Regions from separate parts of the Homo sapiens genome. Here region 2 is linked to region 1. Evidence: fine-mapped expression QTL. A gene starts in region 1. The other region holds a variant in brackets. All regions are shown on one strand. Distances are between the middles of the regions.

What was found. PIP is the estimated chance that this variant, and not a neighbour inherited with it, causes the effect. A credible set is the group of variants that fine-mapping cannot tell apart.
Region 2: its variant is the best candidate, but not a certain one, in a credible set for the expression of SV2C in tibial nerve (GTEx, PIP 0.54).

The regions. Positions count from the first base shown.
Region 1 is chr5:76,081,377-76,085,769 of GRCh38, reverse strand. It overlaps SV2C (synaptic vesicle glycoprotein 2C), which reads right to left and starts at 2,387. Exons shown (of 13, transcript NM_014979.4): 1 at 2,258-2,387. SV2C-AS1 (SV2C antisense RNA 1) reads left to right here and starts at 2,353. Exons shown (of 2, transcript NR_183290.1): 1 at 2,353-2,851; 2 at 3,374-4,364. RefSeq lists an enhancer at 3,023-3,576.
Region 2 is chr5:75,956,826-75,961,218 of GRCh38, reverse strand. It overlaps a transcript of SV2C not described here. Among named protein-coding and RNA genes, the nearest start is that of SV2C, 120 kb to the left of the region's middle. The variant A/G (reference allele first, on the strand shown) is at 2,478.

The DNA of each region.
Region 1 (4,393 bases):
AGCTCTCTGAGATTATCTCTTTTGTCTTCAAAACAACCCTGTAAGGTACATAAGAGCTAGTATAAGCTATTTTTCACAATTCTCAGAGGTGGAAGATGAACCCAAGAGGGTGAGTAACCTGCCCAAGGTGACATAACACAATATTTGGGGAAATGGTGACTAGCATCTGTGTCTCTGGGTTCCTTGATAATTGCTTTTCTTCCTCCCTCCCTTCCTTTCTTTCTTTTTTCCCAACCCCGTCCCCTTTCATTCATTTTGCCTACATACTGCAGATTTGGGCTCCTTCAGTAAAGCCAGTAGAAAAACTTTGTCACTGGGTTTCCAGAAAGTGGTCTTTAAAAAAAAGAATAAAATGGATCGTGGATTTGATTTATTATTTTCCACCAGAGAATGCGTTATCAGTAGTGTTTTTTAACGCGTATTTTTATGCCATGAAAGAGGAATGCGGCATATTGTTTTGTAAGACATTCTTAAACCTCACTTAGAGGCCAGGCCTCCTGCCAAAAATCCTGCAGAATGGTGGCGCAACGGGTTGGCACTACAGAACCTCACGAACCTCAACACCTAGGCGTTCACATGAAAACTTCCCACGAGCACGAGGCCTTTCGGAACTTGCCATGGAAAATGAGTGAACGCCTGAGAGATTAATGCCACATTCTTCAGAATTAAGGATAAGAATTAAACGGAAGCTACCGCGCTAGCAGTCAGCTAAGTATGAAGGGATTAGGTTCAGCGGGAGAGGAGACCATCACGGCATCCCGGTCTCATCTCCTTAAGGCTCTCATGAGCCTTAAAAGACGCCTCATCTCCTCGGTCCCCCGGGGAGCGCCCGGTAGCTGCGGCTCCTTCCCGGCACTGCGGCGCACTGCGGAGCCGCCTGCCCGCCAGCCCAGGCCGTGCGGGGCTTTCCTCGCCGCCCCGCGCCGCCGCAGTCCTCCCGCCCCCCTCTGCCCCGCCGGGTCGCCGCTCTCCGCGCCAGGCGCGCCGCGGGGCATCCATCAACCCAGAGCTTTTGACGCACACACGCGCGCTCCCAGACGGAGACTCCGTCGCCTGCCCCCGCCCGCCACCCCCGCCCGCCCCTCGCGGGTCTGCATTTGCATCACTCGCACACGTAGAAGGTGACGCGAGCGCCCCCAGCTCAGGCCGTCCAGGCGGCACCTCTAGCCCCCGTGGCTCAGCCCCTCCCCCCGCCCCCGCGCGCCGCCTAAGGTCCCCGCACGCCCACAGATCTGCTCCCGATTGTTCATCTGCCGTGGGGTGCTGGCTGCCCCAAGCCAAGTTCATCCCCGTATTCCGCAGTCCCCGTGGGCCCAGCCCGGGGCGCTCCCCGCGACGCTCTGGAGAAAAGTCTTCCCAGTTCTAGAACCCAGGCGGAAGGGGAAAAGCCCACTAAGAGAAAGGGTCAGAGGGTCGGCTGATGGCTTTTGCTGCCCTCATCGCCATCTAAGATTACCTCGGTAGCTTATTTACTGCGATTGGTCCCTCTCCCCTCTGAGCTTCACAGCCTCGGGTCTGCTTCGCCTGGCCTGGCGCACAGCAGGCGCCCAAAAGGTTTTTGCTGAATGAAGGCGTTGTAACGTAGGAAGTGCAGGCGCTGACAAAGAGCCTCAGCCCCGCGGGCTCCCCTGCTCTCCAGCCCTCTCTTGCTCTCTCTTAGACGCCAGACAGGCGCTTCGGGAATGTATGTGGGAGAGTTTGAAAATTCATGGTGTTTCTTTCAGGCTCTCTCAGCACTTACTGCGGCTACCTCTGCTCTCCCGCCACCTGCACGTCTGCAGAGGGATCCCCGCCGAAAAGTTGAGCCTAAGGCAGCTATGAAGGTATAGGTCCAGGTACCCAGCCCGGGGCTCTAGGCTGCTAGATTTGAATCTGCCTATCCCTGCCGGTCAAACCACACAAGCAAAAAAGAGCGTGGCGGTCGCTGCAGATGCGGCCCCTGCATCCCCGCTGCTGCCCACCCACCTCCTCTGGGAATCCCAGATAAAGTGCGACCCAGTCCCCAGACCTACCCTAGCGAACCCTGGGGTCACTGCATCTATTTTACCCCTACTTTCCTGGTCCCTCTCCAACAAAGGCGCCTACAAAGCAGCGGGCACCTGCAGCCGCTTCCCCGGGGGCAGGCGGGGCAAAGTTGCGCTTCCGAAAGGCTGCAAAAACTTCCCCAGGCTGCAGCGCCCGGCCACCAGTCGGGAAGAGAAATCCAGCAGCGGGGGAAAGTCTCCCCGCGGATGCCCGCTTCACCTCCCCCACTCACCGCTCCAGCCGTCGGACACCCTTGCCCTGAGTGGTGTCAGCACTGCAGCCGCCTCAGTGCGGGCGCCGCTCCGGCTCGCTTCCCCGGGCTGCCTCCGTCTGCCACTCTCGCCTGCAGCGCGCGGAGTGGTGACTCCTCTGAGCGTGTCAGCGGCGAGAGGAGGGGCGGGAAAGTGGCTCCCGGCTTGCACGCTGCGGTCCTCCTCCTCTCCTCCGCCTGCCTCCTCCCCCTGGTGCTGCAGTGCCGGGCGGCGGCGTGGCGAGAGTACCAGCGGTGCGCAGGGAGTCACGGCGCGCGGGGGAGGCGGGACCCGCGCGCCACTCGCGGTGCTCCGGCAAGTCGCGGTGCTGAGGCGCTGCTGCGGTGTGGGACTGGGGCAGGGGGCGGGGAAGGAGAGCCACCTCCAAGTGGTAGGTACTTCTGGAGAAGTCAGGGCTCTGAGTTTGTAGCAGGTGAAGGAGAGGGGCGGCAGTCCTTAATTAGTCACCAACTGTGACTGTGCGTTGCGCACTTGGCGGCGCCCCGGGTCAGGTCCAGCGTGAGACGCGAGGGAGTTCTGACTGCTGGACTCTGTTAGCACCGGACAAAAAGAGGGTTTGTATTCTATTTCCGGGCCTGGGACTGACTTGTTCACTTCGACTTGGCTTCCAGGGAGCAACCAGGCAGAGCTAGGTTGCCTACTTCCCCCAGCCCCCACCCCGACGCTGGAAGACAAGTCCAGAGGAAACTTGGGCACAGCAAGAGCAAACAGAAGAAAACTTCGCTGGGTTAAGTCTACTGTCTCCCCAATGCTACATAGGGCCAGACAGCTGGGCTCACAGGCAGATATTGAAAGTGGCCCCTTAGAGGGGAAACAACCAAATATGAGGGGGGGGGGGTGGAGAGAGAGATAGAGAGAGAGAGAGGAGGAGGAGGAAGAAAGAAAGAAAGAAAGAAAAAGAGAAAGAAAGAAAGGAGGAGGAGGGAGAAAGAGAGAGGAGAGAAGAGAGAGAGAGAGGGAGAGAGAGAGAGAATTTTGCTTGTGTTGTTAGAAACAAACATTTCTCCCCTTGGCGTGCAGGAGAGAGAATTTTGCTTGTGTTGTCAGAAACAAACATTTCTCCCCTTGGCGTGCAGGAGACCCCAACTCGAGCTTCACTGTTCCAAAGCGGTGGGCCAGGCGGCTGGAGAGAAACTCGCTCCCGTGAGGCCACACCCAGGCCTGGCGCACCCACCCCGCGGCAGCAGTGGAGGGCGTCGCCCTCCCGGGCCTTCCGACGCAGACCCTGCCATCCGGATGCTGCGGGAAGTAGGGCATCCTCACGTCCCTGACTCCTCCGGCTCCGCGCGCTCACGGAACCCAAGTGGAGTGGGAAGCGGTCACACAGGCGTGTGCCGTCCCCGAAATCGTTGCTCCTGTGGTGGTGACCCAAAGCGAGACAAAGCGCCGCGCCAATACGGGCTGCAGTGATTGGAACTCAAACACACACATCTCTCCGCGAATGTGTTCCATCCGTGTAAATATGCCTGGGTGATTGAATGGATGGCTGAATGAACGCTGTGTGGATAGAAATATAAATGTTACATGTATAATACAGGCGCCGGGGAAGGAGAGCTGTCAGGCACCCCCAGGCTGGAGCCTCCTGCCCAGAGGAGCCGGTGGAGACAGGCGGTTCGCCCAGGGCGGTGTTGTTAGCTTGGGCTTTCCAGTTCGATTTGTGCCACTATGCAGGATACTGTGAAGAGAAGAAAATGGAGACAACTCTTGGCCTCTCATTTTCCCTCCTCTCTGGTTCAGACACTCTGGCACTAAAAGTTATGATTCTCATGTGCTGTTGAACCTACACTTCCTTGCTGGTCTGTCTTGTTCCGGTGAGAGGCTTTGCAGTCTGTGACCATGGTGCTATGAGATGGTCAGGCAATATGAAAATTAGTGAACGTGCTCATTTTCATTTCGTGGATTCTTCTTAGTAAAATAATTATTTAAATAGTTAAATAATTTAAATAGTTAAATAATTTAAATAATTATTTAGGCTAAAATTAATGTGCTGCTACTATGACAAGGAAGTGCCTATGAATCCAGCATTGGAAATACAATTGTGAAATTAAAAAATAAATCCTATCTGGATTCCCCGCATGTTATTTATAAAAATTTGA
Region 2 (4,393 bases), 120 kb after region 1:
CAGTCATCTTTGATATCTGCTGTCTTCCAGTCATACAGAAACCATAGCTTACCATGTATTTATCATTTTGTTTTTATGAAAATATATTGGCAAGGTAGAAGGAAAGAGCATATTTTATTGAAAGATCTGATCACTTAATGTATAATTTTAAAATATTTAGATACGTGGCATATGGGCTTCCATTTGGATTCTTGCTTTGGCTCACAAATACTAGGGGTGGGCCTTCCAAGAGACATAACACAGAGTTCCTAGGAATCAGATAAATTCACTTGAACAGCCCACTAAATTTGGCTATGAAAGAAGTATGTGCAAAGTGGTATTAGAGCACAAGGAAGTATTATATCCTATTCACCTTTGTATATCTAATACAAACAGTCTGTAGATATTTGGGGAATTAATAAATAAATGAATGCAGGCAGATATGAGATACTTATAAATACAATCAATAACAAAGCAACAAACATAATCATGTGTCCTTTAATGACAGGGACACTTTCTGAGACATGCTTTGTTAGGTGATTTTTGTCACTGTGTGAACATCATAGAATATACTTACACAAACCTAGACGCTATAGCTTGGTTTTTAATTTTTATAGCTTAGATTTTTATTCCTTTAGATCTATACAAAGTAAAAGACCTAGGCTATATGGGATAGCCTATTGCTTTTTGGCCACAAATCTGTACATTAGGTTACTGTATATTGAATACTGTAGGCAATTTGCAGCACAATGGCAACTATTTGTGTATCTAAACATAGAAAAAGTAATGCATTGTGCTACAATCTTATAACAGCTATGACATCACTAGGTGATAGGAATTTTTCAGCTCCATTATAATCTTATGAGACCACCACTGTATAAGTGATCCATCATTGATAGAAACATCATTATGTGGTGCATGACTGTATTAGAAACAGATTGTAAAAAGCCATAAAAGAGCAGAGCAACAGACAGTGTCAGGCACTTGTGTTAACACAGTTATTACATTAATAGAGTTGCAAAAAAAATCAGTTAATAGGGTTATAACAAAGAAAACCATAGTTATTACAGAAAATACTCTGAGTTTCTAGGATTTTTTCATTAAAAGTTCCATTGACCTTCAAGGTCATATTAAAATAGCATCAGGAAAAATTAGAATTATGAAAAGGAATGCTAGCTAAAATATTCTGTAATCCTATGATGCCACTCTTAAGAAAGTTTTATATCTTAAGGCTGAATATCATTTTTCACTATAGTCTTTTCAGCAAATTTACTCTGCAATAAAAATGTGAAGTAGAAACATTACTACAAATTTTGTCTAAGGAAGCAGTAATGGTGCTCTAGGTCTTTAAAAGAATATTGATTTTTAGTATACTTTCTCATTTCTTTGTGAATAGGACTGGTCTTATCTTTCCTTTTACCTCTACAGGAAAGAGAAACATTTGCAAAATCAGGTATTTCTACCTTTGGACTGACAGAAGATAAATGTGGAATGAATATGTGAGCAATGGACCCCTCAAAATAACAATGAAGTGATGTTGCCTGAATTGTACTTTATGTCATCTCTGTGGATTTAATAATTGATATTTCCCCCAATTATCATAGAAGCTAGATTAGATTCCTTGAGCAGAAGTATAACTTGCTGATGTGTTTGCATATATGTGTGCACACATGTGCATGTGTTTTGGGGATAAACCTCAACCCTGGCTACATTTTAAATTCACTTGAGAAGCCTTCAATAAATATCAATGCCATGTCCACTACTCCAAAGATTAAAGAGAGACAAGAACTGCAGCATTCAGTATAGAGGAATTATCAGTTCTAACTACTTAACACCCACATGAGATGTTAAACAGGATGAGCTTTGAGGCCATTCTGATCTTAACTGAAATGTTCTTAGAAGAAACACTGAATAAACGACAGAATCTCCAAAGAAGATGTTTTATGCAGGCAGCATGCAAAGAGAGCAGATCTTCTCCTAGGACAGTCTGCCCCGCTAAACTCCAGAAAATTAGAAAAGAGGTCCTTAAATGCTTGTTCTCAGGGTACAAGTTGTTCAACTCTGGACTGTCACAGGTCAGAAACCCTATCGTTTTTATCCTTGCATCATCAGCAGCTACCACGGTGCAAAGAACACTTGCTTAATAAAAAATGAAAAATATATGCATAAATGAACAAAATCTGATGTCAAATGATGTTAATAAGGGACTTTTTCTGTCACAGTTTTAGCATGAGGTCTTAAAATATTTGAGGGGGCATGGGTATAAATCACTCACATTTGCTGAAGTGAACTACTAGACCACCTACGCAGATGTACAAAGAAAGTGTTCTAGAACTCTTATCCCAATGAATACTTCATGACCATCAAAGGGTTGAGGTTGAAAAGGTCAAGGAGAGGGTTTCCTTGGAGATAAATGCTGGTATGCTATGAATCCGCCTCCACATCCCACCCCCATTCCCACTACAAGAGAGGGAGAGGGCTTCCCTCATTTCAAGCAT[A/G]ATGATAGAGTCTCAAAAAGAAACGGAGAAAATGACGTGTGTCCTGAGCCAAGGAGACCATTAGAAATCTATATTTGAGAAACTTCCAAAGCCAGAAGTAGTGACTAGAAGCTGTTCAGCCTTCAGGATGCAGCCAAAGGGCCAAGTTGGAAATGCTCTACATTCCCAAAGTCAGGGCGAAGGATGCAAGAATGTTTTCTGTGGTACAATTGGTGCTGCCTTAAGATAATCTGTTATTGTTAGAAGCAATGTCGCTACAACAGAAGGAATCAGGAAAAATACCAGTGGACCCAGAAGTTGAGGAGGGGAGAGTGGCTAGTTTGTAGACAGATAGGTTCCCCCACATTTAGGGAACTTCATATGAGAAATTACTAGTGATGAGGGTTTCATCCAGAAACACCCTCACAGACAGAACCGAAAATAATGTTTAACCAAATATCTGGGCACCCCATGGCCCAGTCAAGTTGAACAGAAAATTAATCATCACAATAAGCATCTCTGGTCACATAGTCAGTTGATGTCCCATGGTCATGCACTTAGTTTCTGTTAGAGTTCAGTAGTATGCCAGGAGCTTATTTTGGAATGATAACTAATTCTCTGATGCAGATGGCATGACTTTGCTCAAAAACTCTATTGAGGCTTTCCAGAGATTCTGCACTGTGTCACATCAAGGTTACCTGTAGCACCACGGGCTATGCTCAAAAGGCATTTTGAACCTATTTTAGAGTATCCTTCTGTTGGGGGCACCCACTGAAAACTGGTAGCCTTCCAAGTTATCTGACAAATAGGATGGAACAGTATTCCCAAGGGAGGTATGTCCTGTATCCAAAGTCCAAAGATGCCTAGCAAGAACTATGAAAGATACAATGACTTGTCTATCTAGGAAGTGCAAGGTACAGTGATTTGCCTTTTACTTAAGAGGAGATGGCTGGGCATGCCCCATTTTGTCAGAGGCTTAGAAACTTCATCAATATGGCAGACTTTTAAAATATTTGTAGGATGTATTTCCTATGGTGTGTCACACATGTGTCTTACCAAGGAAAGCAGTGTACTTGCCATATGCAACTTCTTAGATTTAATTAACATGATGTCAATGATATCAGCCTGATGTTATGTGGAATGTCAAGCTGATCAAAGAAAGTTTGGATTTACTTTGTGACAGAGCAGAAAAGTTAGTATAGCCCTGGGGCAAGAGTCTGAATACATAGTGCTACTGCTATCCATTCAAGGGGATCCTTCCTCCCATTGTAGATTGGAGATAAGACAGTCACCAGATTAATAGCTGCATGTCAAAAGGTTGTGCCAATCTCTTCTAGTAAAGATACTGGCTTCCAGCACAGCAATTGCCATTGAAGCAATTGGTAAGGTTTATAGCAGCTCATAGTTATTGGCTATAATCTATCTTTTTATTGCAAGGACTACACTGATGAATTAAACAAAGATACACTGGGAACCAACATTTCTGTATCCCTTATGTCTTAGTAGATGTTACTAATCTCTACCATTCTACTCAGAATGTGGTCTTACTCCTGATTTACTATCTTATCTAGGGTTGAGGAAAATTTTAGGAGCTTCTAGGCTTTTCCCATCATCATTGCTCTTCCTCAGTAAGTGAATAAATCAATATAAAGCTTCTGCCAGCTGCTAAGTATATCTTTCTTGATTATGTACTCAGGGAATGAGGAAATGACGGAGTGTGTTCATGAATCAGTTGCAACTATGTGACATGGACTTGGGCCTGGACTTAATCTATCACCTTGCCTTTGTAGACTGTAATAGGGAGGAGGAGAGTAGATGGCTGAGAAGTTACAAGGGAAGGTATGTGCAAATCTGTAGGAGGATATGTATTAACTTGAGAGACAGCTACCTTATGTGAAACTCTGCATGTTTTATAGTCATTGAGTAGCTGCTATCTC